Homo sapiens: one gene and its partners. The protein of the gene in region 1 purifies or fractionates together with the protein of each later gene. This does not show direct contact. Each region holds a gene or a part of one and is shown on either strand. Other genes may lie near its edges.

What was found.
Region 2: the proteins of MATN4 (region 1) and BCS1L purify together in Homo sapiens (affinity purification with mass spectrometry; 2 studies listed by BioGRID and IntAct, with this or other methods). This does not show direct contact.
Region 3: the proteins of MATN4 (region 1) and ARG2 purify together in Homo sapiens (affinity purification with mass spectrometry; 2 studies listed by BioGRID and IntAct, with this or other methods). This does not show direct contact.
Region 4: the proteins of MATN4 (region 1) and VPS33B purify together in Homo sapiens (affinity purification with mass spectrometry; 2 studies listed by BioGRID and IntAct, with this or other methods). This does not show direct contact.

What each region holds. Positions count from the first base shown.
Region 1 is NC_000020.11:45,305,265-45,312,885, forward strand, and holds the start of MATN4 (matrilin-4 isoform 1 precursor), read right to left. Parts: upstream 3,036-7,621; 5' UTR 2,988-3,035; coding exon of another isoform or gene 2,879-2,987; intron 1,681-2,878; coding exon of another isoform or gene 1,659-1,680; exon of another isoform or gene 1,576-1,658; intron 353-1,575; 5' UTR 319-352; coding exon 246-318; intron 1-245. Other genes in the region: RBPJL (recombining binding protein suppressor of hairless-like protein), read left to right, coding at 1,659-1,680, 2,879-2,987, 4,303-4,428, 6,325-6,395, 6,575-6,690, 6,957-7,131. UniProt on the Homo sapiens protein: Major component of the extracellular matrix of cartilage.
Region 2 is NC_000002.12:218,655,572-218,662,682, reverse strand, and holds the start of BCS1L (mitochondrial chaperone BCS1), read right to left. Parts: upstream 3,001-7,111; 5' UTR 2,940-3,000; exon of another isoform or gene 1,745-2,939; 5' UTR 1,696-1,744; coding exon 1,376-1,695; intron 1,278-1,375; coding exon 1,138-1,277; intron 925-1,137; coding exon 730-924; intron 487-729; coding exon 423-486; intron 174-422; coding exon 4-173; intron 1-3. Other genes in the region: ZNF142 (zinc finger protein 142), read left to right, coding at 6,254-6,533. UniProt on the Homo sapiens protein: Chaperone necessary for the incorporation of Rieske iron-sulfur protein UQCRFS1 into the mitochondrial respiratory chain complex III.
Region 3 is NC_000014.9:67,622,911-67,630,015, forward strand, and holds part of ARG2 (arginase-2, mitochondrial precursor), read left to right. Parts: intron 1-2,956; exon of another isoform or gene 2,957-6,430; intron 6,431-7,105. UniProt on the Homo sapiens protein: May play a role in the regulation of extra-urea cycle arginine metabolism and also in down-regulation of nitric oxide synthesis. Extrahepatic arginase functions to regulate L-arginine bioavailability to nitric oxid synthase (NOS).
Region 4 is NC_000015.10:91,019,555-91,027,380, forward strand, and holds the start of VPS33B (vacuolar protein sorting-associated protein 33B), read right to left. Parts: upstream 3,041-7,826; 5' UTR 2,696-3,040; coding exon 2,600-2,695; intron 1-2,599. UniProt on the Homo sapiens protein: May play a role in vesicle-mediated protein trafficking to lysosomal compartments and in membrane docking/fusion reactions of late endosomes/lysosomes.

The DNA of each region.
Region 1 (7,621 bases):
TCCATGTTTTCAAATAATTTTTCCAAATTAAACACCCCATGGGCAGTTCTGCATGCGCCCAAAACTAAGCCACATCCTACAGATGAAGAAACTGAGGCCCAGAAAGGTGAAGTGGGGAACTTAAACCCAGTCCCATATGTTCCAAAGCCCTTGCTTCCCTCTCCCCAGCAGGAGGAGCTGGCTGCAGAGGGAGGACCTGCTTCCGCTCCCCTCCTCCCACTGGTGAGGGCTGGGCCCCAGTTCACCTGTCAACTGGAGCTGGGTTTCCCAGGGCTGAAGAAGGAGCAGCAACACGGGCCAGCAAAGAAGGCCTCTCATGGCGCTTGGGGACAGAGAATGGAGGTGTCAGAGCCTGGAGGGAGGAAGGAAAATAGAAAAGCAACAGTATTTACAGAGCTCTTATTCTGGGTGATAGGCACTTGGAGGGGGAAGACAGTTACAGGTTTATTTTACTAATCTCTCTATTTTTGTGTATGTTTGAAATGTTTCAGAATTAAAAAATTCTCATCACAGTGGGATTGCTGGGAAACACAAGAGATTCTTTTTTTTTTTTTTTTTAGATAGAGTCTTGCTCTGTCGTCCCGGCTGGAGTGCAGTGGCATGATCTCGGCTCACTGCAACCTCTGCCTCCCAGGTTCAAGCGATTCTCCGGCCTCAGCCTCCCGAGTAGCTGGGATTACAGGCTCCTGCCACCACACCTGGCTAATTTTTTGTATTTTTAGTAGAGAGCGGGTTTTGCCATGTTGGTCAGGCTGGTCTCAAACTCCTGACCTCAGGTGATCCTCCCACCTCGGCCTCCCAGAATGCTGGGATTACAGGCGTGAGCCACCGCGCTCGGCCCACAAGAGAATGGTAAATAAGAATAGATACATAGATACAAATATGCAAAATTTAAACAGAAAAAAACAGGTCTTCCTTAAATGTCAGGCACAGTGTTAAATGCTCTTCACGCATTGTGGCATTTAATCCTCTCTGCAATTGTAAGACTAAGGCTGTGATTGTCCCCCATCATACAGACAATGAAATTGAGGCTCAGAAAAGTTAAGCGCTGGTACCCAAAGTCATTCGGCCAAAAAGTGGCTGCGGCAGGATACAATCCCACGCCTGCTAGTTTCTGTGAGCCAGCCTGGGCGTTTGGTGCCTCTCCTCCTGCCAGGCGAACCTCTGCAGACAGAAGCCCTTCCCCACCTCGGCCCACTCCCCTACGCACACAGGCTTCTGTGTGGCTGTCTTTGCAACTCGCCAACCCCCCCAGACCCCTCCACACACACAAACACAGACATGCACTGCCCAACCGCAGGCGGCAGGGAGGGGCTGCGCCCTGTTGCGGGGCTGAGCGTGGTGGCGTGGCAGCGAGTGGACCAAAACCCACTGCGCACGAGAACGCGCGGCTTGGCGCCTGTTTCCCGCCTGCTCTCAGGAGCGACCGCCAGGGGGCGCCCGAGATGGCAGGGGGCGTGGGAAGCCCACATCTGCCCAGCAGGTGCGCCCACCCCGAGCAAACAGGGGGCCGGGGCCCGGGGCCTTGGAGATAAGGCCTGGACAGGATATAACCCGCGCAAGAGCCGAGGAGCAGGGGTGTGCAGGGTTCCAGCGACAGCAGCACTGGACTCGTCCAGAGGGCGGCGGGTGAGCGGCTGGGGCCCCGTGGAGCCACCATGGACCCCGCAGGGGCAGCAGGTGAGCGCTTACCCTCCCGAGGCCCCGGAGACGCCCCGTGAGAACTACGAAGGACCACCCCCCCACCCCCTCCCCACTATACAAATAGGAAAACTAAGCCCCAAGGAGGCAGCCCGCCGAACTGCAAAAGCAGGATTAGAACCTAGGGCTCCTGGTTCCCCTTCTCTCTCTTGAGGCCCCCTGGCGCCTAGAATTCACTAAACCTCATTTCCTTCCAGCTCCTACCCCACCGCCGCGCCCCATGCTGAAGCTGTGTTAGCCATTTTTCTGTTGCTGTTTCTTGGCAGAGAGGGCCAGCTGCCCCTAACCCAACAGCAGCTCCGCCCCCGCCCCCCAATTCCGTGAATGCGCCTATTCTGAGCGAGGCCAGTGCCTGCTTCTCACTCCAGGCGACCTTCTCATCCCGGATTCTTCTCCCTTTTCCCCTCCCAGGCCTGGTAGAAGAACATAAATCCTCTGGCAGGGCCCGTCGTGGGAGGGTGACCAAGCAAGATGTGGCAGCGCTGGTGGAAGTGGGAGGGCGGGGAACCCTTGTCAAGCTTGGGCCACAGGCAAAGCCAACATCCCTGGACAGCATGAGGGCTAAGGCACAAGGGGCCTCTGCCACCTCCCATACTTTCCTACCCGGAGATGCCTCTGGGCCCCTAAATCTTGGTTAAGGTTCCCCTCATCCCATTCTTGGTCTGAGCCAACTTCTCACCTGGCACCCTGCCTCCACCCCAGGAATCCTAGAAAGTCAAAATAGCAAATGCCTCAAAGTTCATCACCTTTCCAAACCCCTCATTCTACAAAGAAAGGAACTAGGTCCAGAGAGGGTAGTGTCTTGCTGAAGGGTACATGGCGATGTCGTGGCAGGACTGATACTAGAACCTGGGATTCCTCTGAGGAGTTAATCCTTGCATTAAAAAAAGAAAGATTCAGAGATGCCCTGAGGTGAGGTTGAGGGAGTGGAGCAGCAAGGGAGGAGAGGCCTGTAAATAAATTCTCAAAAGTCCCTTAGGGACATTTCAGGGGGTTCCTGGAGGGATGAGAGTAGAAAAGGGATGATCCTATTTTGATGGCTTTGAGGGTGGGGGCTCGATTTGGAAAGGACCCTGCAGAAGTGGGGAAGGGCACTGCAAATCAGATAGGGCACCCTAGGCAGCGTCTCTGCTAAAATACACTCGCCTGACCTGGCTTGATGCCTACTCCCCTGCAGACCCCTCAGTGCCTCCCAATCCTTTGACTCACCTGAGCCTGCAGGACAGATCAGAGATGCAGCTGCAGAGCGAAGCCGACAGGCGGAGCCTCCCGGGCACTTGGACCAGGTAACGGCGGCGTGGCAGCGTGCCCTAGGTGGGGACTGCCAGGCAGCTGGAGCACACAGAGGCAACGGCCGCATTTAACCCAGGGCTGGCGGGTGGGGAGGGGAAGTGCAGGCTGCAACCCCTCCCACTGGCAGGGAGGGATCCCCCCTTCCTCCTGAGGGGGGGCAAACCCAGCACCCCCTGCTCCTACCACGCTTGGAGCTGCAGACAGGGCTAGCTGCGGGCCAGGCTGGAATTCAGCTACAGCGGGAGACTGGGGAGACCGGGGCAGCCACACTCCACAGCCGGAATTCATTGGAAGCTTAGAAGGCACTTCCCTGAGGAGAGCCCCAAGGGGTGGAGCGGTCCTGGCTGTGGCTGCTGCCTGTCTGGCCTGGCTTTCGAGGGTGCGGTCTTGCGCTGTCCCCTCCAGGAGTGAGGAGAGACTCTGGTCCTGCCAAGAGGAATAAGGGCTCAGAAGGACAGCCTCAGTTTTCATGGCTCTCCTTGGGCCTCAACCTGCTAACCCCCCAAATCTCTCCCACCTCCCCTCCTCTACTTGCTCCCTGCAATTGCTCGGGCCTACCCACCCACACCGCTCAAGACCCCCAGGTTAAGAAGCCACCAGACCTCTAGGCTCTAACCTGGCTCACTCTGCAGGACCAATGTCATCTGCCTTGACTCCTGTAATCAAGGGTAGGAAAGCCCACACAGCAACAGGCCACTTCTCATGGGAGAAAGGGAAGAATATGGCTTTGGCCCCAGAAAGGCTCAGATTCCCCCAGGCCATCCCCCATCCTGAGGACAAGGTTTTGGGCCCTTTTCTGTTTGCAGGCAGGAGGCTAGAGAGCGCTCCAGGCCAGGAGCCCAGGAAAGGCTCTCCCTTCCCCTCCCTCCTCACCCCCCACCCTGCCTTCCCCAGGGTGGGGAAGCTTCATCTCTACCAATTCCATCAGCCCTAAAATACTCTTCTCCATCCCAAGGCCAGTATAAGTGCAGCCTTTGTGTCACAGCCACGTGTCCCTATGGCCCTGGGCTCCAATGGGCATGATGCCAGACCCACAGAGTGGAACCTGGGTGGTCCCATGGGTTCCATGCAGGCTTCGTTGAGCACCTTGCAGCCTAAATATTTAGCCTACAATTTGCAGCCAAGTCTCCTCCTTACCTAATGCTTCCTCTTCCTGACCCCACAGGGGCAGGATATAGAGCAGCCCCACCCTCCCACTCACTCTAACCCCCTGCTCACTTCATTTTACTCAACCTGAGTGCTTGGACCCTGTGCCACCTTGACCCTTCTCCCTCCTGTGGCTGGTCGACCTGCCTGCCCTACTCCCAGGTCATCCCCAGAGCACACCACCATTCTGAGGGGAGGCGTGCGCAGGTGCCTGCAGCAACAGTGTGAACAGACTGTGCGGATCCTGCATGCCAAGGTGGCCCAGAAATCATACGGAAATGAGAAGCGGTAGGTGCCTCCGCAGCCCCTCCCAGGTCTCTGCAACTGTCAGCCCTATGCACCTCCTCCATCCACCCATTGGGCCTCTTTTAGACGCAGAGCAGGCCTCAGGGCTGAGATCTCAGCTATTGGTCGACCAGGGCCTTGACCCTCAGCCACCATTAGCCCCCACTTTGGTCTATAGTTCTACAGCAGGAGATTCCCTGTGAATCTCCTGTCTCCATTCATTCACTCATTCTCCCATTGATTCACTTATTCATTCATTCAACAACTACTTACTGAGTGTTTGTCATGTATGCACCAGGCTCTGTGGGTACTGCTGGGCACTGGGCATACAGCTGAACAAGACAGAAACAGCCCCTGCTCTGTAGCCCACACTCTCACTCAAGTGTGGAAGAGACAGACAGTAAACTCCCCACAAGTCAGGAAACAAGATACTTGCAGATTATGATGAGCACTAGAAGGAAAACTGAACGAGGCCATTTGACGGAAACTGAAGGCAGGGGGGACATTAGCTAGAAAGGTCAAGGAGGTTGAGAGACCTTTTGGGAGGTAACATTGGAACTGAAACTTGAATGCTGAAATGGAGCCAGACAGGAGAATATCTGGGGAAAGCGTGCTACAATTAGAAGGAACAGAAGGGCCGGGCGCGATGGCTCACACCTGTAATCCCAGCACTTTGGGAGGCCGAGGCGGGCGGATCACCTGAGGTCAGGAGTTCGAGACCAGCCTGGCCAATACAGTGAAACCCCCTCTCTACCAAAAAATACAAAATTAGCTGGGCATGGTGGCGGGCACCTGTAATCCCAGCTGCTCAGGAGGCTGAGGCAGGATAATTGGTTGAACCCGGGAGGCGGAGGTTGCAGTGAGCCGAGATCATGCCACTGCACTCCAGCCTGGCGACAGAGCAAGACTCAGTCTCAAAAAAAAAAAGGGCAACAGAAAATGGGAAGACCTTGAGGCTGTACCAATTAGGCCTGTTTGAGGTACAAAAGAAATGACAGTGGCTGAAATCAGAGGGAGGAGTTGTAGGAAACAAGTCAGAGAGGTAAGCAGGGGTCAGATCTCAGGAGGACTTTGAATTTTAAACCAGTGGAGGATTTTAAGGAGTTAACATGATTTGACTCATGTTTTTAACAAAACACTCTGGCCAGCCTGGTGGCTCATCCCTGTAATCCCAGCACTTCGGCAGACCCAGGTGGGCAGATTGCTTGAGCCCAGAAGTTCCAGACCTGCATGGGCAACATGACAAAACCATGTCTGTACAAAAAACACAAAAATTAGATGGGTGTGGTGGCTTGTGTCTGTAGTCTCACCTACTCAGGAGGCCGAGGTGGGAGGATCAGTTGGGGAGGCAGAAGTTGCAGTGAGCCCAGACAGCCGAGATCAAGTTACTGCATTCCAGCCTGGGCAACAGAGCAAGACCCTGCCTCAAAAAAAAAAAAAAAGAAAAAGAAAAAGAAAGAAACAGGAAGGAAGGAATGAAAGAAAAAAAGAAAGAAAGAGAGAGGAAGGAAGGAAGGAAGGAGCACTCTGGCTGCTGTGCGAAATGGGAAGGAGATAGAAACAGAACTTTCTGGAAATAGACCAGTTTGAAGGCTGATGCTGTGGTCCAGGCAAAAAGTAATGGCGGCTGGGATGAAGGGCGAGGTGGTAAAAAGCCAGTGGATTCTGGATATATTATATTTTGAAGGTGGAGTGGACAGGACCTTCTGATGAGTTGAATGAGGGGTGTAAAAACAATAAGGTTTGGCTATGAATGGGGTTTACAGTCGTGAAAAAGCGTTGCGGGGAGCGGGAGGAGGAAACGAAGGTTCTGCTGGGTTTATGCTACTACCTTGCCGTGCTTACAGGAGAGCCAAGTGGAGATGGATGCACGACTCCAACACTCACTTATCTCCGCAGGTTCTTCTGCCCCCCGCCCTGTGTCTACCTCTCGGGGCCTGGCTGGAGGGTGAAGCCAGGGCAGGATCAAGGTGAGGGCGGAATCAAGGGCTGCCGGCCGCCTGCTCTGTAGGGAGGACCACGAGATTGGGCCCGAGACGGGGCGGTTCGCAGGCGCAGTCTCCCCGCGCCCTCTGGCGGCGAGCGCTAAGCTTGCCTGGCACCTGCGTCCTCCCGAGTCCTTGCAGAGCCAGTTCGCGTCCCTTTCCAGCTCACCAGGCGGGGGAAACGGGGCCCACGGTCTGCGGTTACATGGGACTGGACAGCGCGTCCGGCAGCGCCACTGAGACGCAGAAGCTGAATTTCGAGCAGCAGCCGGACTCCAGGGTGAGAGCGCACGGGAAGGGGTCCGATTCCTGCTCCCATCCCTGCCTCTCCTGGGAAAGGAGGGCTCCTTTACTCCCCTCCGAAAGCCAAGAGATAGGTGGGGAGACCGGGAGGCCGGGGTCCTGCCTTAAGGCCGAGCCTGAGAGCCTGGATGGTGGAGCTTCTGGTCACCTCCGACGGGGCGGACGTCCGATATCTGGGAGAGGTTGGTTCATCCGACGGGGGAGGGCTGGGATGAGATGGCCCTGTACCTGTGAGCCCCCTAGGAATTCGGCTGCGCCAAGACCCTGTACATCTCAGATGCAGACAAGAGGAAGCACTTTCGGCTGGTGCTGCGGCTGGTGCTGCGCGGGGGCCGGGAGCTGGGTACCTTCCACAGCCGCCTTATCAAGGTCATCTCGAAGCCCTCGCAGAAGAAGCAGTCGCTGAAAAACACCGATCGTGAGCAGGGCGGGGCCTGACCCCCGGCCCGGGCGGGGAGGTGCAACCAAGCCCAGAACGGCTAAACTGGGGCGCGGAGGTGGGGGTAGGCTGGGCTTAGGGGTCAGAGTGGAAAAGGTGGAGTCGGAGCCGAGAGGGGAAGGAGTCTGGATGAGTGGGTGCGGCCCAGGCCTGGGGATGAGAAGAGTTGGAGGATGAAAAGCAGAGAGGAAAGGGACAGATACCAAATTCCAGGTTGGGAGTTGGGGTCCCAGAGCAGACAAAAGTTGAACTAGGCAGGAGTTGAACTAGGGACAGACTAAAAGTGACATAGGTGGGGCACGGTGGCTCATGCCTGTAATCCCAACAATTTGGGAGGCCAAGGTGGGCGGATCAGTTGATCCCAGAAGTTCAAGACTAGCTAGGGCAACATGGCGAAATCTTGTCTGTACCAAAAAAAAAAAAAAAAAAAGAAAAAGAAAAATTAGCCTGGCATGGTGGCCTGCACTTG
Region 2 (7,111 bases), on another chromosome or scaffold:
TACTCTCCACAGCCAAGTCTCGACTGAGAAAAGCAGCATCCACATCCTCCAGGAGTACCAGGCTCTGCTGCGGGGCCACGCTCAGCAGGTGGTTGAGTCGGTCATCAGAGAGGCTGGAGTCCGTGAGGCTCAGCAGGCAGATGCTGTGCTCCAGTTCCCCAGCCAGGGCTGTGCTATGGAGCATGGGATGGCAGGAGGTAGCAGGCAACCTGGAAATGCTTCCTCAGGCCCAGCTACTCTCCTCACCGCCTGGGGACATGTGTCTCAGAGGCCTGACTTCTACCTCACACCCTGATGTTCCACACGTTTCATGTTTATCCTGGTCCCCGATCCCCAGATTCATTTCCCCTTCCAACCCTATCAGCCTAGTGTTTCCACAAAGGCTTCGTTTTGCCAAGTTGAGAGAAATTTTGAATACTCACATAAAACTGCTCTTTCCGCAACCAGGGGGCCCATAAAGCAGGTAGCCACGTCTGTAAGGAATGCCTAGGGATAGAGCCAGGATGATCATGTCTTTTGCCCCGGATATCTACGTTCATTCCCAGCCCTGCCCCCTGGAAGCCTGATAACCTTGGTACGGAAATAAATCATTCTCATACACAACTTTTCATTCCTCTTAATCTCTGGGAATTGGACTAGAGCTTTATATCACCCCATCTGGCTGGAGACCAACCTGTCCCTTCTAAAAATGTCAAAAACAGCACAGCCAAGACCCCAGCTGCTTCTCACCTCTGTCAGTGTACCACTTGGGGTTATCGATGAATTCCTGGACGTCTCTGACAATTCGGTCAGCCAGACCCTGTTGTAGAACCACAGAATTCAGTGGTCGCCGGCGGCGTGGATAGCCAAAGGGACGCCATTCAGAGCCCACAGCTGTGTACATCACGGTCTTCCCTTCCTCCTGCTGCAAGGCTAGCTCTCGAGCTGGGAAGGAGAAGATGAGATAAAGCCAATAATTCTCTTCACCATGGCTGATTCTTCAATTAGGTGGAGCTGTGCCAAACAGCTTCCTTCTGGCCCCCTGTTCCCATGGGCTCACCCCGGCCTGCTTATTCCACTTCTCCAAACTGCTCATCTGATGTCAAATGTCCCCATCCCTGCAATGTCCCTAGAAAGCCTGCCTGTGCCATCCCACACCTTCCTCCAGGATGTTGAAGAAAACCTTTCGGTCAGTGCCCAGGGCCGTGAAGGTGACAGATTCCCAAGGAGTCCCCGTCTGCAAGTCTATCATCTGCATCTCTCGACTTCGTTCTACCCGAATCCATTTCCCCCGATACCTGAATAAGAACGATCAAAACTGAGTGAGTGAATGGGTCAAACCCAGCTCCCATCATTCTTTTCTACTCTCACAGCCCTCCCTAGCTCCCCACCTTACCAGATAAAATGGTTTCCAGGGCTGGGGACAAATTCAAACTTAGTGGAAATGCGGCCACTCTCATGCTGAAGGTACGAAGTCTCGACACTGAGGTGCTGAGTACGGGTACTGTGGCGGGTGAGCCAGCTAAGCAACCAGGCATAGCTCCTGTCTCGAGCAGGGACTTCCAGTGTGATCATGTAATGGCGCCGGAATGCCACCAGGCCCAGTTGGACACCCTTCCGGGCCAGGGCCAGGGCTGTGCCCACACCCACCAGCCCAAATCCAGCCCCAAAGTAGGGATTGTCCTTCAGAGCCAGAATAAAGTCTGAAAGTGGCATCTTGAAAGGGAAACACCAAACCTTACAGGCCCTGGGGTGTTACGAAAACCTAGGGGTGGGGAACAGTGGAGATGGGACAAAGCACAGATTAGAAATTGGACCTCCCCAGCCCTGGCCACAGGTCAGCATTACTGTGTGGGTCAATACCCTCCTTTTGTGGGGTAAGGGTGGTATTGGAATGCAAGGGTGGAGGCTCCAGGTCCCTCATCCCATTTTGTCCTTCATTAGTCTACTCATACCTGTTTCCTACCAGAGGACCATGTCTGGAGATGCCTTAAACCAAAAAGAGCTATATAAACAGGCTTCACATCAGGGTAATGGATGGACAGGATTTTTGTGGTCCCTGGGACCAGCTATGATAAAAAGGGGTCCATTGGCTGCAGTCAGCAAGGGAGAAGCGTCCGTTGACTTGTCAGTAACCCTATGTCTTGTTATGAGTAATGTCCTTCAAATATCCTCCCCCTTACGTCCCCAATATTTAACGTCTTGTTTAGACCTTTATTACCTCCCACCTAAACTGTCTTTAAAATCGTAGTTCTTGAAATGGCATTTTAATAGGTCTTCACCTCCTGCTTCACGGAACATCTACACAAGGGTCCAGATCTTTCATCATAGGGATCAGCTCCAATACCATATCTCTCTCTGCTCCAGCACCTTCAATGGCTGGCTCCCAGCAGACCCCTGAATTGGGTATAAACTCAGCCTGGTACTCAAGGCTCTCTACAATACGGCGCCCACCTACCTTTCATGGATTAGCTCCTAACACTACCTGTTTAGCAAATATGCAAATACGCAACAAATATGTTCAACAAGTAAGCAACCTCCCAACTCCTTGCTCATGCAGTGCTCTTGGCTCGGAATGCCCGTTCTTTTCTCCCTCATTCTCCCCAAATGAAAATCTGCCCATCTGCTACTTTCTCCACGGATCGTCACATCGTAGACAATAAGATCCTGAGGGACAAGAGCAAAGTTGTTTCTAGTACACCTCTCCTCCAACCCCGAACCCCGGCCACTTTGCCCTGCGCCTGGCATGCAGGGAGGTGAGCTGACAGCAGTGACCTCGGCTGAGCCTCAGAACTGGGATCCAGAATTCCAAAACACCTATGCATGGAAGGCCACAGACAAAGCTCTCCCGTCCCCGGCCCCTCCGCGACACCCAGGAACCCCCTCCTGAACCTCGCCCACACCCCAGCTCGCGCCTCCAGCCACATGGTTTGGGGTAACCCGTCACTCAGCCCTCTCACCGCCGTGACTCTCTGGCCCTCCGTCTCGATGGTTTCACCGCGCCTGCACCTTGGGGAAGCTGCGTTCGGCCCCGCCCCGGGTCCTTTCATCTACTTCCCGCCACACCCACAGAGAAGCCCACGCCACTCTACCCCAGAGCTCTCGATGGTGCTTCTCCGGCTTCAGGGCTGGAGTGGGGGTGGAGGGCGGGAAAAACCACAGAGACAAAACATAGAGTACCCCGGCAGCCGGCAAGAGGAAGAGAGAGTGGCTTCCACATCCCCAATATCCTAGAGGCGGCTGAGCCGGAGGCGGTCGCACAAAGCGGGCCCCGGGGGCCGTTCCAGCCGCGGCCGACCATAGAGATGCGGCTCCCGCCGGCTCTGGGTCTGGAGGTGAGTGAGCGGCTGCGGGGCGGAACTGGGAAGGGAATGCGGGTGGAGCGAGCTGGAGGCAAAGTTTTTCGAGCCCCGGGATCAGGGTGGGCCTGGGCGCTGGGAACTCTCGGAAGGAGGTACTGAAGGGAGCACCCAGACGAGCTGGGCCCCGGCGCTGCAGTCGCGTCACGGTTCTGGACCCCGCCCGGGTACCTGCTGCTCTCAGGACAAAATCATGACGATGCTCCATCCCAAGCCTTCCAGGTTACAAACCGCCTTTCCAGTTCGCTGGCTCTTATGATCCAGCTCCTGCCCGACGATGTGGACACTGTCATCACCTCCATTTTACAGATAGGAAAGCTGAGGCCCAGAGAAGCGAAGCGACTGTGTCTGTCCAAGACCACGCGGTGAGTCAGAGCCAGAGGCAGGTGGGAACCTGGGTCGCTAGGCCGGGGCCCGTTGTTTCTCCAGGCCTTCTCTCTGCCTTAGTCTGTCCTTTCTCTTCCTCAGCCCTCCTGCCCGGAAGATAAGCGTATTTCTTCTCTGGTGCCCACCTGTCTCCTACCTCACCCTGCCCTCCCGCAGGTGAAGGTTCTTAATCTTGACGGCTCAGCGTCCTCCTTGGCTCCCCCCGGAGGCCATGTATGGTCAAGCTTGAAGATTCCCCAGAACAGCGATAATATTCAGTAAGTGGAGGCTGCAGTTTCCAGAGAATCCCTCTGACCACGGGAGTGCACTTTCCAGCCACCTTGTGAATCCCTGTGATCTGTTGTTTTGAGTCCATGGGATTCTGGAAATAGGGACTATCAGATTGCAGGATCTTGGTTTTTGTTTGTTTTTTTTTTGAGACGGAGTTTCGCTCTTGTTGCCCAAGCTGGGGTGCAATGGTGCGATCTCGGCTCACTGCAACCTCCGCCTCCCGGGTTCCAGCGATTCTCCTGCCTCAGCCTCCCGAGTAGCTGGGATTACAGGCGTGTGCCACCACACCCTGCTGATTTTTTGTATTTTTAGTAGAAACAGGGTTTCACAATGTTCGCCAGGCTGGTCTCGAACTTCTGACCTCAGGTGATCGGCCCGCCTTGGCCTCCCAAAGTGCTGGGATTACAGGCCTGAGCCACCGCGCCCGGCCTGGTTTCTTCTTCTTTTTTTCTTTTTGCATCTTGTCTGTGACTCAATTTCATGAAGTGATTCCCATCATTCTTATTAATTACTAATTATTCAGCTTAAACTCATTTTAGCCATGTATAACAGGGTATGCAATTCAATTGTCATTCATTCCTCAGTTATGTTCCCATATTTAGTTTGAGGCCATAGTCAGTTAATGAGTTTGAAATTTCTCCAAATGTGTTACGTTATAGGTGAGGAACCACTGGTTTTGTACAAGATACCTAGCTTTACTCCAATGCAGCTCCATATCTGTGGTTCTTCACTGGAATCTTCGATTGTGGGTGATTTGTGTTCGTTGAAGTGATAATGTCAGTATCACAAAGTAATATCATTGAAGTGATAATGTCAACAAATTACTAAAAAAGCTATACATCTAGGGAGAGAGACTGACAGGTAAACAACAGTGCAGTGTGACCTCGTTTCTGATAGGGCTGTGTACAGAGTGCCCTTAGGACGCCAGAAGAGAGAAGATAAGAGTTTCGGGAAGCCAGGCCCGGCGCGGTGCCTCACGCCTGTAATCCCAGCACTTTGGGAGGCCGAGGCAGGTGGATCACCTGAGTTCTGGAGTTCAAGACCAGCCCAACCAACATGGAGAAACCCCATCTCTACTAAAAATACAAAATAGTAGCCAGGCGTGGTGGTACATGCCTGTAATCCCAGCTACTCAGGAGGCTGAGGCAGGAGAATCGCTTGAACCCAGGAGGCAGAGGTTGTAGTGAGCTGAGATCGTGCCACTGCCCTCCAGCCTAGGTGACAGACTAAGACTGTCTCAAAAAAAAGAATGTCAGGAGGCCTTCATGGTGGAAGTGACATTTGTGCAGCTTCTTCAAGGATAGTTAATTGGTTAGCCAGATAAGAGAGAGAGATTGAGAAGGGGAAAAGGCATATCAAGCCAAGAGACGCAAAAGGCTGTGAGGGTATGAAAGCAAAAGAGAATGTGGTGGGTCTGGAGAATGGCACATCATCTGGTTCAGAGATCTGCTGAGGGGAGAAGTGGGAGATGAGTCAGGGGAGGTCAGCAGGAGCCAGATGATGAAGGAAGGGCCTTCCTTATAATCCATGCTGAGGAATAGTGAGATTATCAAAGGTTAAGAGGGAAAGGGACCAGGCAAGGTGGCTCACGCCTATAATCCCAGCACTTTGGGAGGCCAAAACGGGCAGATCACCCAAGGTCAGAAGTTCGAGACCAGCCTGGCCAACATGGTGAAACTCCATCGCTGTTAAAAATACAAAATTTACCTGGGCGTGTGTGGCACATGCCTGTAGTCCAGCTATTGGGGAGGCTGAGACAGGAGAATTGCTTGAACCCAGGAGGCGGAGGTTGCAGTGAGCCAAGATCACGCCACTGCACTCCAGCCTGGGTGACAGAGCGAGACTCTGTCTCAAAAAAAAAAAAAAAAAAGGACTTCTGAGATATTTGGGCCCCACCTAATTTTGTTGCAGATAAGAAATCTGAGACCCAAATTGCTTAATGACTTGGCTAAGGGCACTTAGCTAGCAGAAGACAACCTGCAGTCATTAATATATTGGCCAATACTTGTTGGCTGTCTCCTAATATTCTGTTATCATTTTTATACTTTTTGTTCTGAACATTATCATAAAAGAAAGCCTCTATTTAGTCTCATATGGTATATATGGCATATTGCCATGCAAGAAAATGCCTAAGTGGGTGGGCACTGGGCTGTGTACCCACGCCAGCCAGGAAGAAAGTAAGAACTCTAACCTTACTTTGTTTTTCTTCTGGTTGGCTTGTCAGCATTTAAGAAGCCAAAACACACAAGTCGGTGGTGATGACAGACCCCCTTTTGGACTCACAGCCAGCCAGTAGCACCGGGGAGATGGATGGACTGTGCCCTGAGCTATTGCTGATCCCCCCGCCTCTCTCTAACCGTGGAATCCTGGGGCCTGTCCAGAGCCCCTGTCCTTCCCGGGACCCTGCACCTATACCTACTGAGCCAGGCTGCCTGCTGGTAGAGGCCACAGCAACTGAAGAGGGACCAGGGAACATGGAGATCATTGTGGAGACAGTAGCTGGAACCCTGACCCCAGGTGCTCCTGGAGAGACCCCAGGTACAAACACAGTTGCAAGCAGGCCAGTGGGACAAGCAGCTCTGAGGTTTTGTCTGGGTTATTTTTGATTCTGTATAAATATGATGAGAACACAAGGTAGCATCCTATTTTTATACTTGGAGATGTTGTCATTTGGTTTGCAGTTGGTGCATGTTGATTGAAGGCTGGCGAAGTGGTGCACAGCCTTCTACCAAGCTTTTGGCAGTCTGTCCTGCAAGGGCTTCATGTGTGCTAGGCAGTAATCCAGAAAGTAAGACCTTTCTGACACCTCCGCCCAATCCTGGCTTGTCCCTACTCTTACAGTCCTTGGAGATTCTTTCCTCCATATTGACCCTCCTACCCAGGAACTGCAGCCAGGGATTAAGCAAAAACCCTGTCTCTACCACCCTGGGCTTGGCAGGGCTTTCCAGAAGTGATCTGGTATTTCCCTGCCCTAGTTTTTTGTGTATAACATACTTTACTCATCCGAGGCATGTTGTTAAGAATAAGAGTTGAGGCCTGGTACAGTGGCATGCACCTGTAGTCTCAGCTACTTGGGAGGCTGAGGCAGGAAGATTGCTTGAGCCCAGGAGTTAGAG
Region 3 (7,105 bases), on another chromosome or scaffold:
ACTCATGCTTTGTAGACTTCCTTTCCTGTCACAGCTCTTGGTATTTTTCCACTCCAACCCAGGGGAAGCCATTCTCCTGTAAATATTACTCCCTCTTTAAACTCCAACCTAAAGTGATGGTGAGGCTTCAGTTTATATGGCCTTCCCTTTGACTTTTTTTCTCAAATATATTTAATTGTACAATTATATCCTTACTGTGTAGCTGACTGGTAGCTCAGTATCACCAGCAGTCTGAAATAGAATCTCATAGCCTATTAAATAAAACTGTGGCTCTCAGCAGATTTCTAGCATGTGGTTTTGGCTAATCTCCTGGAATATATTGGAGAAAAGTACCAAGAGACATTTCAGTTGCTCTGTTCCTAAACAGTACCAAAATAACTTGAGTGTTTTGAACACTTTCAAATAAACAGCATGGATCAAATTTCAAAGGAGAGACTCATGGAAAGGTAACTTTCACAATCCCTTTGTTCCTTGCCTTTGCTCTGATGTCACAGGCTGCCGGTGTTACCATAGCATGAGTTAAATTTCCTGTTTTCTCTCGAATGAATGTATTTGACTTAGTGTCTGGGCTTGTTTTATTTCCTTGGGCTTAGTAAGGACACTCAACAGTACTCTCAGGTAACCTTTTTTTTTTTTTTTTTTTTTTTTTTGAGACGGAGTCTCGCTCTGTCACCAGGCTGGAGTACAGTGATGCGATCTTGGCTCACTGCAACCTCCGCCTCCCGGGTTCAAGCAATTCTCCTGCCTCAACCTCCAAAGTAGCTGGGATTACAGGTGCCTGCCACTGCGCCTGACTAATTTTTGTATTTTTAGTAGAGATGGGGTTTCACCATGTTGGCCAGGCTGATCTCGAACTCCTGACCTCAGGTGATCTGCCCATCTAGGCCTCCCAAAGTGCTGGGATTACAAGAGTGAGCCACTGCTCCCAGCCACCTTTTATTTTTCTTTGAGAGAGGGTCTCACTCTGTCACTCAGGCTGGAGTGCAGTGGCATAGTCACAGCCTACTGCAATCTCAACCTCCTGGACTCAAGCGATCCTCCCACTTTAGCCTCTTGAGTAGCTGGGACTACAGACACATGCCAGTATGCCTGGATAATTTTTTTTTCTTTTGTAGAGCCGGGGTCTCACTATGTTGCCCAGGCTGGTCCCGAACTCCTGGGCTTAAGAGGGCCTAAGAGAAATGAAAAGGCATTGCTCTGGCAAGGCTGAGGAGCAGTATATCTGCACTCGATTTTGGTTAGCTCTGAGAACCATGGTAATTTGTGAATTCTAGCCACCTGTTACCATGTGAGAAGGAGTGGGCCTTGTACTCTTTTCTCCAGTTTTTCAAGAAAAGCCAGAAATTTGCACTTTAATGGGAAATCTGTGTTGTTTTAAAATACTGTATAGTGACACCATTGAAAATGGTGGCATAGGACCTCCAAAAAAGGAATGAGAACTGTATTAGTCTGTTCTTGTACTTTTGTAAAGACATACCTGAGACTGGGTAATTTAAAAAGAAAAGAGGTTTAATTGACTCATGGTTCTGCAGGACATACAGGCTTCTGCTTCTGGGGAGGCCCCAGGAGAATTATAATCATGGCGGAAGGTGAAGGGGAAGCAAGCACGTCTTATATGGCAGGAGCAGGAGGAAGACAGCGAAGAGGGAGGTGATACACACTTTTAACCGGATCTCATGAGAACTCTATCATGAGACAGCACTAGGGAGATGGTGCTGAACCATTAGGAACAACCCCCATGATCCAATCACCTCCCACCAGGCCAGACCTCCAACATTGGGGATTAAAATTCAACATGAGATTTGGATGGGAACACAGAGCCAAACCATATCAAGAACATTGGCAAAAATGATCAGAATCAGCTTTTTCAGAACTCTGGAAATTAACCAAAGGCTTGCAGCAATCTGGGGAGCATTTATTCAAGAAAAACATTGAATCTCAGTAAGAACATTAAGAATTGTGGCATTTTAACTTGCCCTGTTCCCATGCTGCCTTTTCCCAGATCAGCTGTAGCCTGGACAACCGATAGCCTGCAATCACAGTGAAACCAGGAGGCTGGCAGTTACTGCAAAAGGGAGAACAGAGGTGATACTCCTCATAGACCATCCCCAGAAAATTGTCATTTGACTGGTCTGATGGTTTCCTAAAATTGTCCATTCACAAGGCTGTCTTTATTTGACCAACACAAGTCAGTAAGGAAAGAATAGTCTTCAGTAAATGGTGCTGGGATAACTGGATATCCACATTAAAAAAAAAAAAATCCCTATCTCACACCATATATGAAAATTAACTCAAAATGGACCAAAGTCCTAAATGTAATGCTGAAACCATATAACTGTTAGAGAACATAGGACTGGATTTTTGCGACCTTGGGTTAGGTATTGGTTTCTTAGCTATCCCATCAAAATCATAAGTGACAAAAATTAAACTTGACTTAGCTAAATTAAATACATCTATGTTTCAAAGAGCACTATTAAGAAAGTGGGGGCCAGGCACGGTGGCTCACGCCTGTAATCCCAGCACTTTGGGAGGCTGAGGCAGGCGGATCACCTGAGGTCAGGAGTTCGAGACCAGCCTCAACATGGAGAAACCCCATCTCTACTAAAAATACAAAAAAAAATTAGCCGGGCATGGTGGTGCATGCCTGTAATCCCAACTACTCGGGAGGCTGAGGCAGGAGAATTGCTTGAACCTGGGAGGCGGAGGTTGTGATGAGCCGAGATTGTGCCATTGCAGTCCAGCCTGGGCAACGAGAGCAAAACTCCATCTCAAAAAAAAAAAAAAAAAAAAGAAACTGGAAAGACTTCATCAATGTAATGAAAAACCAAAAAAAAAAAAGAGAAAAGGTAAAAAGACTGCCCATAGAATTGGCAAAATATTTGCAAATCATATACCTGATAAGATTCTAGTGTTCGGCAAACATAAATAAAATAACAACCGTAAAAAGACAACCAAATTTAAAAATTAGCAATAGATTTAATTAGCCACTTCTCCAAAGAAGTTATACAAATGGGCAGTAAACACATTAGTCATTACGGAAATGCAAATTTAAAACTACAATGGCCGGGTGTGGCGGCTTACACCTGTAATCCCAGTACTTTGGGAGGCTGAGGCGGGCAGATCATTTCAGGTCAGGAGTTCAAACCAGCCTGATCAACATGGTGAAACTCCGTCTCTACTAAAAAATACAAAAATTAGCCGGATGTGGTGGCACACTCCTGTAGTCCCAGCTACTCAGGAGGCTGAGGTGGGAGAATCACTTGAACCTAGGAGGTGGAGGTTGCAGTGAGCAGAGATTGTACCACTGCACTCCAGCCTGGGCAACAGAGTGAGACTCTGTCTCAGGGGAAAAAAAAAACCACAAAACTACAATGAAATACCATTTCACACCCACTAGGATGGCTATGATAAAAAAGATAGACAATACCAAGTATTGGTGAGGGTGTAAAAAGATTCGACCTGTCATACACTACTGGTGTGAATGTAAAACTGCAGCCACTTTGGAAAACAGTTTGGCAGATCCTCAAAGTTAAATGTATAGTTACTGTGTCCTCAAGCAAATCCATTCCTATGTATATACCTAACAGAATTCAAAACATATATTCACACAAACTTTTTTTTTTAGACAGTCTCGCTCTTTCACCCAGGCTGGAGTGCAGTGGTGCAATCTCGGCCTCAGCCTTCTGAGTACCTGGGACCACAGGCAAGCACCACCATGCCCAGCTAACTTTTGTATTTTTAATTTTGCCATGTTGGCCAGGTTGGTCTCGAACTCCTAGCCTCAAGTGATCCACCTGCCTCAGCCTCCCAAAGTGCTAGGATTATAGGCATGAGCCATTGCACCTGGCCACACACAAACTTATATACAAATATTCATAGCATTATTCATAATGGTCAACATGTGGAAACTCAAATGTACATTAATTGAATAGGGGAGGAAAATTTGACATATCCATATAATGGAGTATTATTCAGTCATAAATGGAATGAAGTACTAATTTATGCTACAACATGGATGAACCTAGAAAACATGCTAAGTCAAAGAAGGCAGACACAGAAGGCCACATGTTATATGATTCCATTTATATGAACTGTCTAGAACAGGCAAAGCCATAAAGACAGAAAGGAGATTAGTGGTTCCCAGGAGCTGGGAATGACTGCTAAAGGGCATGGGTTTCTTTCCGAAGGGTGATGGGACTGTTGTAGAATTAGGTAGTGTCGATGGCTGCACAACTTCTTGAATATATTAGAAAGCACTGAATTATAAATTCTAAAAGGATGAATTTTATGGTATGTGAATTATATCTCAATAATTAAAAAACTAGGCAATTGTGATCAGTAAGGAGATATATATATATATATATATATATATCTGAAACTTCTGAATTGCTAATATTGATCTGTTTTGTGACTTGGGTAGTAATTATAGGGTGTTTACAACTATCTGTTATACTTATGTAAGTTTTATGTGTTTATATTTTATGAAATATACAGTAAAGACACATTACAAATCATGTCTGTTGATAGATATCCATCTTTTCAAGCTCTAGTTTTGGGCATTGAAAAGAGATGAAACTGGCATCTCTGAGGTGCCTTTTGAACAGTGTCATATCTTTGGGACAAGAATTGGTTGCTAGGTTGACTCAACAGCAAATATCAGTGATGTTTCTGAAGAGACTGTAAGGCTGTATGATCCACCAAACCTTCTGCCTCTGCCATTCACACTCTTCTATTAAACACTTAGCAAGGCATAGTGGCTCATGCCTGTCAGCCCAGCACTTAGGGAGGCCAAGGTGGGAAGATTGCTTGAGGCCAGGAGTTTAAGATCAGCCTGGACAATGTAGCAAGACCCCATCTCTACATTTTTTAAGAGTCTATTTCCACAGCAAGGAAGAAATGAAAGTACAGCACCTGTCCCATTTCCCACAAAAAAGTCTTTGCCTAGGGTCTGCATATGTGACTGGAAGCTAAATTATTGGAATGAGCTTGTTTGTTTAAGGTTATTAAAGTTCTGGGTTCTTTGACTTCTAAAGTCACTCTGATATGTATTTGGAAGAGTAAATGTCTAGCAAATTGGCTTTATATTTCCTTTAGAGATCTAGCAAAGACCAAACCTGCTTTGGACCTCATCTGTGCCACAGTGCCCTTGGGGGATGGGCCACCTGTAGCAGAGGAATAGGAGCTGAGGCATGAGCTGATAAGTGGCATCACTTTAGGGCCCTCTCCAATCTCACCTGGAATGTCACTAATAGTGACCTATTTCTTTGGGTTCAAGCTTTTCATTTTCTGGGCCTCCTTTATATTGCAGATTCTTTTATTTTATAGATAGGTCTCACTATGTTGCCCAGGCTGGAGTGTGGGGGCTATTCACAGACATAATCATAGTACACTACTGCCTCAAACTTCTGGGCTCAAGCAAGCCTCCTGCCTCAGCCTTCAGGATAGCTGGGATTACAGATGTGCACCACTGTGCTCGGCTGCAGATTCCTTTTAGGAGGTGAATACATAATCAGTAATTTGCTAATGCCTTAGTAAAAACTTAGTGATGTGCCTGCATAGAGGGAAATCTATAATAGACACTATTGGGATTTGGCAAATTTCAATGTAGCCGTATATTTCCCATTTATGACAGCAAAGATTTTAACTTAATACCTCTTATTTAACTTAATACCTCTTATCAAAAGTTTTTTGATACTTAACATTTACCATCTTCTAGACACTGTGCTAGGCATTTGCTATTATCCCATTTTCATAATTTGTAAAAAGCAAATTTTGACCACCTCAGCCATTAGGATGGCTACTATCAAAACAGAAAATAAGAAGTGTTGATGAAGATGTGGAGAAATTGAAACTCTTTTACACTGTTGGTAGGAACATAAAATGGAGCTGCTATGGAAAACGGTATGGCAACTCCTCTAAAAATTAAAAATAGAATTACTATATGATTTAGCAATTCCACTTCTGGGTATGTACCCAAAAGGACTGAAAGCAGGATCTTGAAGTAGTTGTGTACCCATGTTCACAGCAGTATTAACAATAGCCAAAAGGTGGAAGCAACCCAAGTGTCCATTGATGGATGAATGGACAACCAAAATGTGGTACATACATATAATGGACTATCATTCATTCTTCAAAAAGCAGGGCTGGGTGGGGTGGCTCATGCCTGTAATCCCAGCACTTTGGGAGGCTGAAGCAGGAGGATTGCTTGAGTCCAGGAGTTTGAGACCAGCCTGGGCAACTTAGCGAGTCCCAATCTCCACAGTGGGGGGAAAAAAATTAGCCAGGTGTGGTGGTGCATGCACATAGTCCTAGCTATTCAGGAGGCTGAGGCAGGAGTATTGCTTGAGCCCAGGAGGTTGAGGCTGCAGTGAGCTATGATCATACCACTGCATTCCAGTCTGGCAGCATGGACAACAGAATAAAGCCTCATCTGTTTAAGAAACAAAACAAAGAAACCTGACATATGCTGCAATATGGGTGAACTTTGAGGACATTATGCTAAGTGAAATAAGCCAGTGACAAAAGGACAAATACAGCATGATTCCATTTATATGAAGTTTTTAGAGAAGTCCAATTTATAAAAACAAAGTGGAATATCAGTTACTAGGACTTGGTGGGAGAAGGAAATGGGGAGTTAATTATTGCTTAATGGGTACAGAGTTTGTTTTGCAAGATGAGTTCTGGAGATGGATGATGGTAGTGATGGTAGTGTCCAATCAACTTCTCAGTCTTCTCGGCTCTTACTACAAAGGAAGAAACTGTACTACCCAGATTTCTTTTTTAATAGAAATGTTATTTATAGTTAATAACGAATGCACTGCATAAAAACTTTATAGTTTCATTATTGTGAAATGTGTTCAAGATCCTACAGTAAAAGTGAAACATTCCCAAGGACTTGCGTTAGTGAAGACTACACAGAAAACCTTTCTAAGGATTTGTGTGGATCCGATAGATACTTGGCAAATTTTTGAGTTGTACATTCTTACAGAAAGTCCACTTAAAAGTGATCATTTGTAAGACAAAAATATAAATAGTTTCAAAAATCTTTAAAAAATCATCCTAAATGCATGATCTTCACCTCCAGCTTCTGAAGAGCCCTCGTTCT
Region 4 (7,826 bases), on another chromosome or scaffold:
GCCAGCTTAGGGGAGTGTGGCCTTGATCCTCTAATTAACAGGGAAAAATAAAGCTTTTGTGTATTGAAGCATTCCAATCAGCTGGAAATGTTAGAGGAATCTGAAGACCAGAGAAACAGGAGGCAGGGAGTCCACTTAGGGAGTTAATAAAACCATCCACAGAGCGCAAGCATGTGGCAATGAAAGAGGCCTGATTTAGGCTGGTGGTGGTGTGAGCAAACATAGATTAAGAGATACATGGAATGTGTAATATAATTTTTTTTTTTTTGAGATGGAGTATCGCTTTTGTTGCCCAGGCTGGAGTGCAATGACGCGATCTCGGCTCACCGCAACCTCCACCTCCTGGGTTCAAGCAATTCTCCTGCCTCAGCCTCTTGAGTAGCTGGGATTACAAGCATGGGCCACTATGCCCAGCTAATTTTGTATTTTTAATAGAGATGGGGTTTCTCCATGTTGGTCAGGCTGGTCTCGAACTCCCAACCTCAGGTGATCTGCCTGCCTTGGCCTCCCAAAGTGCTGGGATTACAGGCATGAGCCACCGCACCCAGCCTAATATTTTTTTTAATACTTGAAAGAAATTAACAGTGTTAGTAGTGTTTATAACTTATGGTAGGGCTATAAGTAGTTTTCTTTTCCTTTTTACTTTCCTTAATCTTCTTACATTTTCTATAATGTGCAAGTGTTATTTTATAATCACCATAAAAAAGTTATGTGTAAAGAAGTATCCATGGAACTCAGCAACTGGTTCAGTTAAGTATCAGGGTGAAGGAGAGGCAAAGATGATTCTGATATTTCAAGCTGAATAGCAGTGCACATTAACAAAAATTAAGTCAGAAGTTAGTTAGGAGAGGACGTTATTGCCTGGAAATCCACTTTGGCCATGCTGAATCACCCAGTGGGCTCAAGTTTCTCTTCTTGGTCTCCTCTACTTGATCTCACCTGAACTAGTGGCTTTAACTAGCACCTCTTTTAAATTCTTCAGACATTGTTGCAAGTCTTTTATGTGCATGTCACTGTGCAAGCACTAAGTATTAAAGAGAAAGAAGCCGGGAGTGGTAGCTCAAGCCTATAATCCCAGCACTTTGGGAGGCTGGGACGGGCAGATTACCTGAGGTCAGGAGTTTGAGACCAGCCTGGCCAACATGGTGAAACCCTATCTCTACTAAAAATACAAACATTAGCCAGGTGGGCTAGCGTGCGCCTGTAATCCCAACTACTGGGGAGGCTGAGGCAGAAGAATCGCCTGAACCCGGGAGGTGGAGGTTGCAGTTAGCCAAGATCGCGCCACTGCACTCCAGCCTGGGCAACGGAGTGAGACTGTGTCTCAAAAAAATAAATAAAATAAAATAGAAATAAAATCTGGTCTAAGATGCCCTGCAGTTCTCATCTTGATCCATCTTCCTTCCAGTCCTCACAATGCAGCTGCAGTTCTACATTTCTATCTGCTGGATGTTACAAGCTATATTTCTTACGGGCATCTTAACTTCCCCCATCCAAACCCAAACAAATCAACTTCCCCCATCAAACCTGTTCCTTTTTCTAATTATTTTTCTCATTTCTATTCAATGTTAATACAACAAATATTTATTAAGCACATGGTGTGTGCTTGACTCTAAGCTAGGTACTCACTAGGTAGTGTTGAACAAAACAAACATGATCCCTGCCCACCTTCCAGTCTAATGAGGAATACAGACATAAAATGAATAACTAAATGATTACACAAGTAATCCATTAAAATCACAGTGGCAGTATTATTTTCCTAATAACCCAGGTTAAAAATCTCACTCATTTTTGCTTCTCCTTCAACATTTATAACCAATCAGTAAGTCTTTGAGTTTTCTTTCACCATAACTTAAAAATCCATCACTTTCCTTCATTCCCACTGCTACCAATTTTGTGTGGGCCTTTATTTCTTGTCTGATCTACGGTCTCCTAACTGGCCTTCTTGTTGCCCATTTACGCCACCACACACATCACTATTAGAATCATCAAGTATTGTCTCATGCCACAAATGGAAAAAAAATTTTTTTCAGTGGCTACTGTGTAACTGCTGATGGGTGTCTTCCCTTACATGCCTTGTCTTTCCCTGGTTTGCCAACTTTGCTCCTACCAATCTATCTGCCTGGAGCATGCTTAGTCTCCAAAGAAAATATGCTTATTACTCACACTCACTTCCTTGAAGCTCCTAGATCATCACCCCAACTAGAAATGATCACTTACTGTGAACTCTTCGGGTACACTAGCTCTATCACTCATTTACCACCTGTGTGTGATAATTTGTGCTTCATACAGCTCCTACTGGAGTGGTAAGATCCCTAATGGCAAAGATGTCTTAACCATCTTTCCGTCCCTAGGGATGCCTGGCACTAATGGTGTCTCCCTTGCCTGTATGCGGGGTTGGGGGGTGATTTCCATTAACTCTCTGGCCAGGTTCCAAACAGCTCTTACTACTCCCTGGATTCATTCTGGACCTGCTGGGGAAGCGCCAAGGACAATACCAGGGGCCAAGAACAAGATCAAAGGGGCACGGCAAGGAAGAAATGTGCATCCAATGAGTGCTAAACTGTAGATGCGATAAAGGCGTCAGGCAAGCACTGACCTGCTCCAGCAGATAGATGAGCTGGTCTCGAGCCAGCCTCTTCAGCATGGAGAAGTCAGGCAGCTCAGGGGCGTCCGGCCGATGGGGAAAAGCCATGGCAGCGGTCACCTGCGCCGCGGGGTGGAAGGACGCCCTTCGTTCTGAGAAGGCCGGCCGCAGCCCAGGGAAGCGCAAGGGGGGCTATCCTTCAGGCCTGGGCACCGACTTCCAGAGACCCCAGATGGGCCCTCGCTCCTCAGCAGCACTCCAGGAATGAATGGCCACCTCCAGGCAAGAGAGCTACTACCTCGGAGCAGCCTTGTCTCAGACCTGCAGCCACCGTGTCTCGACCCTCCCTCCCTGATCCACTCTGCCCGTCAGCAGGATTCCGGTCTACACCCCGCAGAGACTCCGCAGCGTACGAGGAGAACCCCGCCTTCTACCAGAAAAAGAAGCGACTTCCTAGATCTCCCGGAAGTCCCTTTCGCTCCCAGCGCTTCGCGTACCAGGAAGGGGACGGCGTCCTGAAAGGGACATTTGAAAAACGGAGGCAACGCGTCTATTAATTAGGTGGCGGCGCCTGGGGTCGCAGCACTCCAGAGGCTGAGGTGGGAGAATCGCTCGAGTCAGGGAGGCGGAGGTTGCAGTGAACTGCGATCGCGCTACTGCACCCCAGCCTGGGCAACAAAGCTAGACCTTGCCTCAAAAAAAAAAAAAAAAAAAAAAAAAAAGACATAATGAATGCATCAGGCTAGCTAACAATACCTCAACTCTGATCAATCATACCATCATATCATTTCCTGGTGAGATGCATAGGAAATACAGAGCATCACCTATTGCCAAAAATTGAACCTAATCAAGCCTCAAGATCTAACTACCAGTTTATAGGCTATATAGAGATTAGCAGGAATATGTTAAGACACCAAAGGTATGAAATCAACCATATCCAAAATGTAGGAAATTATATGGGACAAATGATCTGTCGTCTTCAAAAAAATGGCAAAGTGGGAAATGTGGGAGGGGAAAACACTTCAGAATAAAAGAGATTTAAGAGATGTATCAACAAAATGTTTCAATGTGTGGATCTTTTTTGGATAATAATTCAAAGATAACTGATTTAAGGAATTACTAAAACTTTTCGGGTATTGTATTTCTTTTCTTCTCTTTTTTTTCCTGACAGAGTCTCGCCCTTTTGCCTAGTGGAGGAGCTCGGCTCACTGCAAGCTCCGCGCCACAACCCCCCTGCCGCCCCAGGTTCAAGAGATTCTCCTGCCTCAGTCTCCCGAGTAGACTGGGATTACAGGCGAGTGCCACCATGCCCGGCTAATTTTTGTATTTTTGGTAGAGACGGGGTTTCATTATGTTGGCCAGGCTGATCTCGAACTCCTGACCTCAAGTGATCCGCCTGCCTTGGCCTCCCAAAGTGCTGGGATTACAGGCGTGAGCCACAACGTTGGGCCAGGTATTGTATTTCTATGTTATTATTATTTTTTGTATTTCTATGTCATACAGGCTTGTATTTCTGTTAAAAACAAGTCCTTATCTCTTTGAGATACATACTGAAGTTTTTACAGGTGAAATAATTTGGCCAGGAGTAATGGTTCATGTCTCTAATTCCCACCACTTTGGGAGGTCCAGGTCGGGGTCGGGGGGTTGCTTGAGGCCAGGAGTTTGAGATAAGATTGGTCAACTACAACACATAAAAAATAGCCAGGCATGGTGGTGGGCACCTTTAATCTCGATACTTGGGAGGCTGAGGCAGGAGGATCACTTGAGCCCAGGAGTTTGAGGCTGCAGTGCGCTACGATCATGCTACAGCACCCCAGCCTGGGCAACAGAGTGAGACACCGTTTGTTTTTTCTTTTCTTTTTTTTTTTTTGAGACAAGGTCTGGCTTTATCTATCACCCAGGCTGGAGTGCAGTGATATGTTCTGTCTCTTTTTTTTTTGAGATGGAGTTTCGCTCTTGTTGCTCAGGCTGGAGTGCAATGGCACGATCTCAGCTCACTGCAACCTCCACCTCCCAGGTTCAAGCGTTTCTCCTGCTGCAGCCTCCTGAGTAGCTGGGATTACAGGCATGTGCCACGCACCCAGCTAATTTTGTATTTTTAGTAGAGACAGAGTTTCTCCATGTTGGTCAGGCTGGTCTTGAACTCCTGACCTCAGGTGATCTTCCCGCCTCAGTCTCCCAAAATGCTGGGATTGTAGGCATGAGCCGCCATGCCTGGCCCGATCTGTCTCTTAAAAAATAAAAAAAAAAACTAAAATATGTTTGGGATTTGCTTTAAAATAACCCAGGGGGAGATGTAGGAACATTCAGGAAAAAGATTGGGCCAGGCACGGTGGCTCACGCCTGTGAACCCAGACCGAGGCAGGTGGATTGCTTGAGCCCAGGAGTTCAAGACCAGCCTAGGCAACACAGTAAGACCCCCATGTCTATAAAAAAATTAAAAAATGATTGGCCATTTGTTAATTGTTAAAGCTGATGGGTACATGGGGGTTTATTGCATTTTAGTATTCTACGTCTTTATTTAGAGATGGAGTGTTGCTCTGTTGCCCAGGTTGGAGTGCAGAGGTATAGTCATAGCTCACAGCAGCTTTGAGCTCCTGGGCTCAAGTGATCCTCCCACCTCAGCCCCCCAGATAGCTGGAATACAGGCACATGCCACTTTGCTGAACTTCTCCCTACGTTTCTATGTTTGAAAAGCTGTATAATACAAGGTTAAGCAAAAAACAAAAAACACGCTATGCTCACACTGGACTTTGAGAGCTCATATGGTATTTTATGCTGAGCCTTTCTTCCCACTAACGCCCTTAGATTGAATCTTGGCTGCAGTGGGAGATGGAGGTTGCCCTAAAGTGGTGGGATTTACTCCCACTGCTGCTTAAAGAAGATGAGTGAGGCATTACATTACACTCCTTCTTTTCCCCCCCGGAATCTCACTCTGTTGCCCAGGCTGAAGGGCAGTGGTGCTGTCTTGGCTAACTGCAACCTCCGCCTCCCAGGCTCATGCGATTCTCCTGCCTCAGACTCTGGAGCAGCTGGAGTTACAGGCATGCGCCAGCACTCCCAGCTAATTTTTGTAGTTTTGGTAGAGATGAGGTTTCTCCATGTTGGCCAGGCTGGTCTCGAATCCTGACCTCAGGTGATCCACCTGCCTCAGCCTCCCAAAGTGCTGGGCTTACAGGCGTGAGCCACCGCGCCCAGCCTTATTTTTATTTTTATCCCATGACTTTTTTTATCCCATAACTTTTTCTTCCTAAGTTTTTTCCATAACTTTTTTTTTTTTTTTGAGATGGAGTCTTGCTCTGTCACCCAGGCTGGAGTGCAATGGTGCATCTGGGCTCACTACAACCTCCACCTCCCGGGTTCAAGCAATTCTGCTGCCTCAGCCTCCTGAGTAGCTGGGACTACAGGCACGCACCACCATGCCCAGCTAATTTTTTGTATTTTTAGTAGAGACAGGGTTTTGCCATGTTGGCCAGGCTGGTTTCGAACTCCTGACCTCAGGTGATCCGCTCACCTCGGCCTCCCAAAATTCTGGGCTTACAGGAGCGAGCCACCACGCCGGGCCTAGTTCCCTGCTTTTGGATGACAGTAATCTTCATCTCATCTGCACCTGTTTCCCCCATTGGACACTTCCCCAGGTTTTGCTGACAGTGGCCTGCTTTTATTTAATTTTTATCACATGACTTTTTTTTTAATCCCATAGCTTTTCATAAAACTTTTTTTGGAATAATTTTTTTTCATAACTTTTTCCACAACTTTTTTCCCACAATTTTTTTCCTCAGTCTTTTTTCATAACATTTTTTATCCCATAATGTAACTTTTTAAAAATCCCATAACTTTTTAATCTCATAACTTTTTTTTTTTTTTTTTTTTTTTTTGAGACGGAGTCTGACTCTGTTGCCGAGGCTGGAGTGCAGTGGTGCGATATCGGGTCACTGCAACCTCCACCTTCTGGGTTCCAGCAGTTCTCCTGCCTGAACCTCCCAAGTAGCTGGGACTACAGGGGTGTGCCACCATGCCTGGCTAATTTTTTATATTTTTAGCAGAGACGGGTTTCACTGTGTTAGCCAGGATGGTGTTGATCTCCTGACCTGGTGATCTGCCCGCCTCGGCCTCCCAAAGTGTTGGGATTACAGGCGTGGGCCACCGTGCAGAACATCTCATAACTTTTTTAATCCCATTACTTTTTTTAATCCCATAACCTTTTCAGTTTGTGTTCTTTTAATAAACACTTGCATAGTTATATTACAATTTTGTAAAAATAAAAACATTATCCCATGCCAAGTGTGCCCAGCACTTGCACAATCTCGATACCTTTAATACTATGGTTTTCAAGACACACAAAATAAAATTTTAAGTCAAAAACAGCACTTTGCAACAATAACTTATTACATTACAGTAACATCACAGCAGTATTCGATAATGACACTTTAGGCAAAAGTCTTTCAGTATTTCCATTATAAATTCTATTTACAAGAATTCGTAAATAGGTAAAAGTTATTCTAAGAAAACTTGACAAATAAAACTTTGGACTGGAATTGGCATTTCTTTCTCTACTTTTCCTTCTCCAGTTTCTTTCTTTTAAGCTACAGTATTCATATTTTAAAATGTTTTATTTCAAAACATTAAAATAACAGTTACTTTTTTAATAGTTATACTATTATAAAATGACTCCTTAAGATAAAGTTTTAAATAAATTATATTCTGGATAGGGCTGATTTACATTTTGAAATTTTCTAAAAATCAGCTTGGTTTTAAAATGGATTTTTTTTTCCATTTCCGGAAAACCTATCAGGTTTAATCAAATACTTTAAAAATGATTATCATATATTGCAATCTTTTTTTTTTTTTTTTTTTTTAGAGATGGAGTCTCACTCTTTTGCCCAGGCCAGACTGCAGTGGCGCTATCTCGGCTCACTGCAAGCTCGGCCTCCTGGGTTCATGCCATTCTCCTGCCTCAGCCTCCCCAGTAGCTGGGACTACAGGTGCCCGCCACCGTGCCTGGCTAATTTTTTATATTTTTTAATAGAGACGGGGTTTCACCATGTTAGCCAGGATGGTCTCGATCTCCTGACCTCGTGATCCGCCCACCTCGGCCTCCCAAAGTGCTGGGATTACAGGCACTAGCCACTGCACCTGGCCCATGCCTGGCCTATTTTTATAGAGACAGGGTCTCACTGTGTTGCCCAGGCTGGTCTCAGACTCCTGGACTCAAGTGATCCACCCACCTTGGCCTCCC